Linked DNA regions of Homo sapiens: region 2 is linked to region 1. Evidence: fine-mapped expression QTL. Tissue or cell type: whole blood. Region 1 holds a variant in brackets; the other region holds the start of a gene. All regions are shown on one strand. Distances are from middle to middle.

Evidence for each region. PIP is the estimated chance that this variant, and not a neighbour inherited with it, causes the effect.
Region 2: it holds the start of STK26, and the variant in region 1 is fine-mapped to the expression of STK26 in whole blood (TOPMed, PIP above 0.99).

Annotation. Positions count from the first base shown.
Region 1 is chrX:131,925,432-131,930,585 of GRCh38, reverse strand. No RefSeq gene overlaps it. Among named protein-coding and RNA genes, the nearest start is that of STK26, 95 kb to the left of the region's middle. The variant C/T (reference allele first, on the strand shown) is at 2,377.
Region 2 is chrX:132,020,522-132,025,675 of GRCh38, reverse strand. It overlaps STK26 (serine/threonine kinase 26), which reads right to left and starts at 2,374. Exons shown (of 12, transcript NM_016542.4): 1 at 2,269-2,374; 2 at 2,017-2,168. The coding sequence starts at 2,058. RefSeq lists enhancers at 1,693-1,762, 1,732-2,279, 2,133-2,292, 2,743-2,792, 2,280-2,826 and a silencer at 2,333-2,582.

The DNA.
Region 1 (5,154 bases):
CAAATCTCAGGGATTTCAGTATCTACTAGTCTGGGTAGATATTTTCACTGGTTGGGCAGAGGCCTTCCCTTGTAGGACAGAAAAGGACCAAGATGTAATAAAGGCACTAATTCATGAAATAATTCCCAGATTCGGACTTCCCCGAGGCTTACAGAGTGACAATGGCCCCGTTTTCAAGGCTACAGTAACCCAGGGAGTATCCCAGGCATTAGGCATACAATATCACTTACACTGCGCCTGGAGGCCACAATCCTCAGGAAAAGTCAAGAAAATGAATGAAGCACTCAAACGACATTTAAAAAAGCTAACCCAAGAAACCCACCTTGCATGGCCTGCTCTGTTGCCTACAGCCTTACTAAGAATCCAAAACTCTCCCCAAAAAGCAGGACTTAGCCCATACAAAATGCTGTATGGATGGCCCTTCCTAACCAAGGACCTTGTGCTTGACCGAGAGATGGCCAGCTTAGTTGCAGACATCACCTCCTTGGCCAAATATCAACAAGTTCTTAAAACATTACAGGGAACCTGTTCCCGAGAAGAGGGAAAGTAATTATTGCACCCTGGTGACATGGTATTAGTCAAGTCCCTTCCTTCTAAGTCCCCATCCTTAGATACATCCTGGGAAGGACCCTACCCAGTCATTTTATCTACCCCAACTGCGGTTAAAGTGGCTGGAGTGGAGTCTTGAATACATCACACTCGAGTCAAACTCTGTATACTGCCAAAGGAACCCGAAAATCCAGGAGACAACGCTAGCTATTCCTGTGAACCTCTAGAGGATCTGCACCTGCTCTTCAAGCGACAACCGTGAGGAAAGTAACTAGAATCGTAGATCCTCATGGCCCTCCTTGTCATATTTTTTTCTTTACTGTTCTCTTACCCCCTTTCACTCTCACTGAACCCCCTCCATGCCACTGTACTACCAGTAGCTCCCATTACCAAGAGCTTCTATGGAGAATGCGGCTTCCTGGAAATATTGATGACCCATCGTATAGGAGTTTTTCTAAAGGAAACCCCATTTTCACCACCCACACCTATATGACCCTGCACTTCAGGCCATACATTTCAATCCCTGTATCTTTAACCTCCTTGTTAAGCTTGTCTCTTGCAGAATCGAAGCTGTAAAACTACAAATGCTTCTTAAAATAGAGCCCCAGATGCAGTCCATGGCTAAGATCTACCACGGACCCCTGGACCGGCCTGCTAGCCCATGCTCTGATGTTGATGACATTGAAGGCACGGCTTCCGAGGAAATCTCAACTGCACGACCCCTACTACACCCCAATTTAGCGGGAAGCAATTAGAGCAGTCATTGGCCAACCTCCCCAACAGCACTTACTCTAAGCGATGTAACTCAGGAATGGAAAGCCAAACATCGTATGTTCTTACTGATATGTGGGAGCTAAGCTATGAGGACACAAAGGCATAAGAATGATACAATGGACTTTGGCAACTTGGGGGAAAGAGTGGGAGGGGGCGAGGGATAAAAGACTACAAATATGGTGCAGTGTATACTGCTTGGGTAATAGGTGCACCAAAATCTCACAAATCACCACTAAACAACTTATTCATGTAACCAAATACCACCTGTATCCCAATAACTTACAGAAAAATAAAGTAACTAAAAGAGAATAGGCCATGTGCATTGGCTCATGCCTGTAATCCCAGAACTTTGTGAGGCTGAGATGGGTGGTTCATTTGAGGTCAGGAGTTTGAGACCAACCTGGTCAACATGGTGAAACCCTGTCTCTACTAAAAATACAAAAATTAGCCAGGCATGGTGGCACATGCCTGTAATTCCAGCTACTCAGGATGCTGAGGCAGGAGAATCGCTTGAACCCAGGAGTTGGAGGTTGCAGTGAGCCAAGATCATGTCATTACCCTCCAGCCTGGCAAGAGAACGAGAATCTGTCTCAAAAATTTTTTTAAAAAAGAATAAATAAAAGAATATAATTGGATTGTTTGTAATACGAAGGATAAATGCTTGAGGTGATGGATACCCCATTTACCCTTATGTGATTTTTACACACTGCATGTCTGTATCAAAATATTCCATATACCCCATAAATATACATGTAATATGTACCCACAGAAATTAAAACTTAAAAAACGACATAAGAGTTCAAAACCTATGGAATGCATCTAATGAAGTGGTTGGAGAATAATGTATAGCTTTAAATGTCTATATTACAAAAGAAGAAAAGTCTCAAATTAATAACCTAAACTTTCTCTTTTTTTGTTGAAAAGGGTGTCCTTTCCTTACTTTATGTTTTAGTTTGCTTTGTCAAAGATCAGTTGGCTGTAAGTATTCAGCTTTATTTCTGGGTTCTCTATTCTGTTCCATCGGTCTATGTGCCTATTTTTATACCAGTACCA[C/T]GCTGTTTTGGTGACTATGGCCTTATAGTATAGTTTGAAATCAGGTAGTGTGATGCATCCAGATTTGTTCTTTTTGCTTAGTGTTGCTTTGGCTATGCGTGTTTTTCTTTTTCTTTTTTGGTTCCATATGAATTTTAGAATCATTTTTTCTAATTCTGTGAAGAATGGTGGTGGTATTCTGATGGGGATTGCATTGAATTTGTTGACTGCTTTAGTCAGGATGATCATTTTCACAATATTGATTCTACCCATACATGAACATGGGATGTGTTTCCATTTGTTTGTGTCATCTATGATTTCTTTCAGCAGTGTTTCATAGTTTTCCTTGTAGAGGACTTTCAACTCCTTTGTTAGGTATATTCCTAAGTATTTTATTGTTTTGCAGCTATTGTAAAAGGGGTTGAGTTCTTGATTCGACTCTCTGCTTGGTGGCTGTTGGTGTATAGAAGAGCTACTGATCTGTGTAGATTAATCTTGTATCCATAAACTTTGCTGAATTATTTTATCAGTTCTAGGAGCTTTCTAGAGGAGTCCTTAGGGTTTTCAAGGTAAACGATCATATCATCAGCAAATAGTGACAGTTTGACTTCCTCTTTACCGATTTGGATGCCCTTTATTTCTTTCTCTTGTCTGATTGCTCTGGCTAGGACTTCCAGTACTATGGTGAAGAGGAGTGGTGAGAGCGGGCATCCTTGTCTTGTTCCAGTTCTCAGAAGGAATGCTTTCAACTTTTCCCCATTCAGTATTATGTTGGCTGTGGGTTTGTTATAGATGGCTTTTATTACATTGAGGTATGTCCTTTTTATGCCAATTATGCTGAGAGTTTTAATCATAAAGGGATACTGGATTTTTTCAAATGTTTTCTCTGCATCTGTTGAGATGATCATGTGATTCTTCTTTTTTATTCTGTTTATGTGGTGTATCACATTTATTGACTTGCGTATGTTAAACCATACCTGCATCCCTGGTATGAAACCCACTTGATCATGGTGGATTATCTTTTTGATATGTTTTTGAATTCTGTTAGCTAGTATTTTGTTAAGGATTTTAGCATCTATGTTCATCAAGGATATCAGTCTATAGTTTTCTGTTTTGGTTATGCCCTTTCCTGGTTTTGGTATTAGGGTGATGCTGGCTTCATAGAATGAATTAGGGAGGGTTCCTTCTTTCTCTGTCTTGTATAATAGTGTCAAAAGGATAGGTACCAATTCTTCTTTGAATGTCTGGTAAAATTCTGCTGTGAATCCATCTGGTCCTGGATTTTTTTTGTTGGTAATTTTTTAATTACCATTTCAATCTCACTCCTTGTTATTGGTCTGTTCAGGATATCTAATTCTTCCTGATTTAAGCTAGGAGGATTTTATTTTTTCAGGAATTTATACATCTCTTCTAGGTTTCCTATTTTATGTGCATAAAGGTGTTCATAGTAGCCTTGAATGATCTTTTGTATTTCAGTGGTGTCAGTTGTAATATCTCCTGTTTTGTTTCTTAGTGACATTATTTGGATTTTCTCTCTTCTTTTCTTGTTTAATCTTGCTAATGGTCTTTCCTTTTTATTTATCTTTTCAAAGAACCAGCTTTTTGTTTCATTTATCTTTTGTATTTTTTTGGTTTTGAATTTCATTTAGTTCTGCTCTGATCTTGGTTATTTCCTTTCTTCTGCTGGGTTTGGGTTTTGTTTGTTCTTGTTTGTCTGGTTCCTTGAGGTGTAACCTTAGATTGTCTGTTTATGCTCTTTCACACTTTTTGATATGGGCGTTTATGGCTATGAACTTTCCTCTTAGCACTGCCTTTGCTGTATCCTAGAGGTTATCATAGGCTGTGTCACTATTGTCATTCAGTTCGGAGAATTGTTTAATTTCCATCTTGATTTTGTTTTTGACCCAGTGCTCTTTCAGGAGCAGGTTATTTAATTTCCATGTATTTGCATGGTTTTGAAGGTTCTTTTTGGAGTTGATTTCCAGTTTTATTCTACCATGGTCTGAGAGAGTGCTTGATATAATTTCAATTTTCTTAAATTTATAGAGACTCATTTTATGGCCTATCATATTGTCTATCTTGGAGAAAGTTCCATGTGCTCTTGAGTAGAATGTGTATTCTGCGGTTGTTGGATGAAATGTTATGTATATATCTGTTAAGTCCATTTGTTCCAAGGTATAGTTTAAACCCATTGTTTCTTTGGTGACTTTCTTTCTTGATGACTTGTCTAGTGCTGTCAGTGGAGTATTGAAATCCCCTACTATTATTGTGTTACTGTCTATCTCATTTCTTAGGTCTGTTAGTAATTGTTTTATAAATTTTGGAGCTCCATTTGTTAGGTGCATATATGTTTAAGATTGTGATATTTTCCTGTTGAACAAGGCCTTTTACCATTATGTATTGTCCCTCTTTGTCCCTCTTTTACCATTATATACTGTCCCTCTTTTCACCGCTGTTGCTTTTTGTTTTGTCTGATATATGAATAGCTACCCCTGCTCGCTTTTGGTGTGCATTTGCATGAAATGCCTTTTTTCCACTCCTTTATTTTAAGTTTATGTGAGTCCTTATGTGTTAGGTGAGTCTCCTGAAGGCAGCAGATAGTTGTTTGGTGAGTTCTTATCCATTCTGCTGTTCTGAATCTTTTAAGTGGGACATTTACAGCATTTACATTCAATGTTATTATTGAAATATGAGGTATAGTTGCTTTCATCATGCTCTTTGTTGCCTGTGTAGTTTGAGGTTTTTGTTTTGTTTTGTTTTGTTTTGCTTTTTAACTTGTATTTTTGTTTTATAGATCCT
Region 2 (5,154 bases), 95 kb before region 1:
GAGAATGACCAAAAAAAAAAAAAAAAAAGATTCCTCTCTTCTTTGCTAACGTTGAGATGTTTGCCCTACTCAAATTAGGTGGGACAAAGTAATCACAACTCAGAGGGCACAGAGTGAAAGGCAGAATTTGTAATTTAAAGTATATGATTCACATTCGAATCCACATTAATTAAGATTTAAAAATTCAAGAGATAGGCAACTCAGATAATTAAAAGCAGGGAGCAATCAGAAATACTGAACAGCAAGCAGTTCCTAAACCATATAAATTCAATAAGTTCAAGACAAATAAAATAAAAATCAGAAACCATTTTCCCCTCAGCACACAGAGTTCCCCAGAATCACAAACTTGATGAACTGGAGGCACTCACTCTGCTGACGCACACACGCAGGCTCGCGCACACAATGGAGCGAGAAGCATGGAGACCCTCAGAGACAAACTTCACATGTGCATCGTTTTACTCTCCACAGAATGGAAAGAAGAGCACGGTGAGAAAATGTCACTTTTTCCCAGATCAAACAGCAAAACTGTACTTAGTATTGTGAACTATGAATTCCCTTGATACAATCAAAGGCAGAACTGAATGAATGGGGTGTGGGGCAGGGTGCGTGGGGAAAAGAAGGAGGGAAGGAGAGGGGAGGCCGCCTGAGAGGAAGAAAGTTTAAGGCATTTTGCAAGGCTTGAGTGGATTAATCTTTTTTTTTAAGCCCTACTATTTCCTATTTCCCTTTCTCTCTCTCTCTTTATTTAATATACACTAACTTCCTGAGACTCAACCCAGACTTGCCCTAAATGCAGCTGAAATGTCTGGTGTTTAGGACACACCAAGAGTTCTAGGTGCACAAATAAATCCCATTTTGGGAAAGAATTTAAAAATCACTTTTGTGGACATTCATAAAATGAGAACACTGAAAAAAAAAAAAAAACTCCATGTATCAATAAGTAAATTGAGGCCCCAGTCTACAGCTCTTTGATTTCTACTAGAAATATAAGCTATTTACTATAAACATTTTATTTTTGAACTTCAAAAAAGTTTGTTTTCACATTTTAGATCATGAAAGACTGAGGCTTCAGTGGTTTTAGCCCCTAAATGGGTTGTTTAGGCCATCTAGCAAAGGAAAAAAAAATAGAACATGAATGCTTTAAAAAGTTAGTAAATTTGGATAACACTTAGCAGATAGCCTAAAATGCACCGATTTAAAAACATAACAGCATAAAAAGTTTTCTGACATAGCTTATCTTTAATAAAATGAAAATATAATGGGAGGGGGTTGGGCTGGGTAGACTTCGAGTAACAAGTTGGGTCCCATGCAGTAGTCCCTTGTCCAAGACAAAAAGCTTCCTTTAACCACATGTAACAGTCATCTTGTGGGAAAGGCACGGAGGGGGCTGAGAAGTCATCACCTCAGTGACTCTGAACAGAACCAGCATTTCTCACGCCACACTATGGGCTGGGCTAGGTCGGGGAGCAAGCTACAACTTTGCCCTTAAGCAGCAGTACCGAAAGGGAGAAAGAGGTCACCTCTCTCTTAGCCCTACGCACACAGGAAGAGCCCAATTCAAGCCGCCGCCGCCGCCACCCCTGGTGTTGCCCCGCCCCAACTTGAGTGTGTGTTTGGGGTGGGGGGTGTAGGGCACTCACTACTCGCGTTATACCCCACAAATTCCAAGGCACTTCCATCTCTCCCAGGTTAAGTTCCGCCCCCCCATCCCCAACCGTGCCAAGCTCAGCAGGCGCAGGTGTCTGTGGCTCTGGCCTATTTTTATACCCCCAACCGCCCTCAATCTCCACCTAGTTGCGCGCTCCAGTCCCGCCTCGCCTTCCCAGCGAAGAGCACTACCTAGCCTACACACCAGGAAACACCTCCAGCCCTACTCCCAGGTCACCTGGCCATAGTGACCGGCCCTGCCCTCAGGGGAGCCCTGGGGCCGTCCCTTGTCGCCGGTGCCCAGCACCGAGGGCGCACCGGGCTCCCAAGCAGTCACGTGGGCGGCGGGGGCGGCCTGCGCTTCCTCACCTGCATCCCAGGCACTTGGACAGCCACCGGCGAGTGGGCCATGGAGGCGAATGCTGCCTCGCTCCGCTTCTGCGGCGGTGGCGCCTTGGGTTCGGACTGGCTCCTCCCTCCGGGGGTAGTTCGGCGGCCCTCCCAGGCTTTTCGATCGGGGCCTGGGAGGACACACAAAAGTGGGGTTACTGGGCTGGCGGCGCGTAGCCCGGGGCTAGGAGGTGGGCTGTTAGCGGCGCAGCTCCCTGGGACTCAGTCTACCTTTCTGGCGCCCGCCCGCCGCTGAAGCAGCCGCCTCCGCTGCTGCTCCTCTTCCTGAACGCCGAGCGCTGTGAGTGGTGGTGGCTGGGACCTGGGCTCGAGTGATGCCGCTCCTCTGCGCCTCGCCGCTTTAGGAAGAGGAGGTGGAGGCGCCCCAGCCACCCGCCTGCTCGCCTGGCCTGGGAGGCGGTTGGGGGCGGTTCCGCCGTTGGCCCTGCCCCCGCCCCGCAGCCGGGCGGTGTCGCGGGAGCCAAGGCTCCAGGCAGCGAAGAGGTTTGGCTGGGGTTGCTGGAGTCTGAGAAGCTGGAGACTCTCCCGGCACGCGGAGAGGAGAACCCGGGGACCCGGAGACCTGGGACATGGCTGGGCCTGGGAAGAGAATGGAAGAGTTTGGGAAACCCTGAGGGTATGAGGGCGCCCCAGATGCGGCCACGTTGCAGGGAGGCGTGCGAGGCTGGGGCACACGCAGCCTCGGAGACGACTTGAGCTGAAACTTGGGGAGTGTTGGAAGTCTTTCTTGGCTCCCCGGCCTGGCCAAGGGTAGGATTACAGATAGCCGCGGAGTCGGTGGACCCCCGCTTTTTCCCGCCATCTGGTCTCCTCAGCTGGGGGTCGCGCCTCTGGGCAGATCTGTGGCCACACTCTTGCTTTCCGAGTTCCCTGACCCCAAACATGCTTCAGGTGACTTCAACTTAAGGTTCCCCCTACCTCCTGGGCTATCCCTTGCAGAACGGCCAAACTAGGGCTTCTCTCTACCACAAGTTCTGCACGTGTAAGGCAGAGGGAAATTGGAAAACAGATGGTACATCGGCAGAAAAATTAATGAGGATAGTAGAGGCTTGGGAAATGAGATTGGATCGTTAGCAGTACAGGTTATTGAAATCAGCATACACTGCAGTGGTTTTGGTAACTCCCTGCCTCCGCCCCATTTTAAGTTCTACTCCAGGAGAGGGAGACAGGCTCTTTTGAGAGTACTCTAACAGTAGCGACAGTAACACTGGTAATAATAGTAACAGGAATTTCATTATGAAGGCACCTTTGGGAACACGTAAGGGGTTAATTACTTTTTAAAAAAGTAATAGTCGAGTGCCAGTTTAAAATGAAGATGAAGTTCCTTACCTTGAAATTTGTTATGGGTCTCTACGCACCACACGGTGGGGGGCCTCTAGTGGTAAAAGATAGTTTCTCTTCTTCCTTTTAAATCTTTTTCAGAGAATAGTATATAATTCTTATCAATATCGTTATTATTAATGGATATTATTTTCATTGTGCCAGGGACTGCTAAGTGCTTTCTATGTGTTATTAATACCTTACTGAACCTGTACAAGGGCCTTCTGGAGTCTTATTGATTTCCCCTCATTTTACAGATGAAGAAAAAGGCTCAACCAGGTTAAATAATTTGACCGAAATGTCACGCAATTAAGAAGTGGTACAGCTGGGAATTCAGACGCAGGTCCCTCTGACTGGTGATAAACTTACTACTTTCTCTATGGTTTCTGTTTGTGTTTAATGATGATAAAAGGTACAATTGCATTTTCCTTACTCCTAGTTCCCCAAGTCCAGCCCTTCACTATTTCTAACCTAATGTTAGGCTCCAATCTAGTCTCGATTTCCCACCAACCCAGCTCACAACATTGCCAGCCTGACCGGAAACCTGCAGTGCCACCTAAACTTTTAATGTCCATAGAAATCCGAGGGTTCTTTTGCTCCCTCAAAAGCGCAGATTTTTATCTCCCATGTCTGGACTGGGCCCAAGATTCTGCAATGCTAACAAGCTCTCACATGGTGATGATGTTTAGATCACACTTTTAAGTCGCAAGGGTCTGAATCAAGCTCCATCATTTAAGACCTGTCTCAAATCTCACCTCCATTGACCCTTCCTAGTTGCTCCAAGCCCTCCTTCAAACTCCTCCAATGTGAGCAGCGCTCACACTGTAGTTCTTTCTTCTTATTTCATATATTTCATTTGTTTTGTGTGCCCATATTAGGTCCTTGAGGGCAGAGATCCAGCCTCTCTTACATGAGAATGATTCAGGTAGGATGGCAGGAGTCTGAGGGCAAGCTTTTTATACATTTTGTCCATTGCTGTATCCCCAGAGACTAGGTTCATGGCATGTAGTAGGCCCTCAATAAATAATTGTTGAATGAATGAATGAACTTCTTTTGAATTCTCCACTGAGGTTACTAGGTGCATAATGTATACACTATATATTTTATTGATGTCAGGTTAAACCCCTAGGCATTGCCCTTACTGAACATTTAAATTGTTCAGTTTATTGTGTGTTACATCTTTCATTATTTAGTCTCCAAAATTCTTTCCTGCTAGTTTAATTTCACAACTACTTATGAGCCAGTTGTATAATTTTGATAGATAAGTAAATTAAGCATATCAGAGAAATGACTTTCTCTGACATCATTCTGGGCCAGAGTTATGTAACTATGTGGAAGAATAAAAGCTTAATGCTGAGACCTGGAATATTGAGACATTTCCTGAAAGACATTGCATTTGAGATCTTAGTGAGCTTTTTAGCCTTTATTTAGGTTTACTGCTATTAAATAAAGCATCAGTTGTTGTTATAATTGATAGAGATCACTTGAGTTTTTACATGGGATTGCTTGTGGGCTTTTAAATGATTTTTCCTGTGTGTGTGTGTGTGTGTGTCTGTGTCTGTGTGTGTGTGTGTATCTATAAATTAAATCTTGTGAAGGTGTCAACATTTGAAAACAATTCAAATTTTATGAGCATTAGAAACTTTTTTTCCACTTTGAACTGGATTATTTCTCAAATTCTTAAATAAAATGACAAGAAATTCAAGTACGCTTTTGTTACACACACACACAAAGGAAACTTAAATATTTTACTTCAAATTGTCAGCCCAGGCCAGG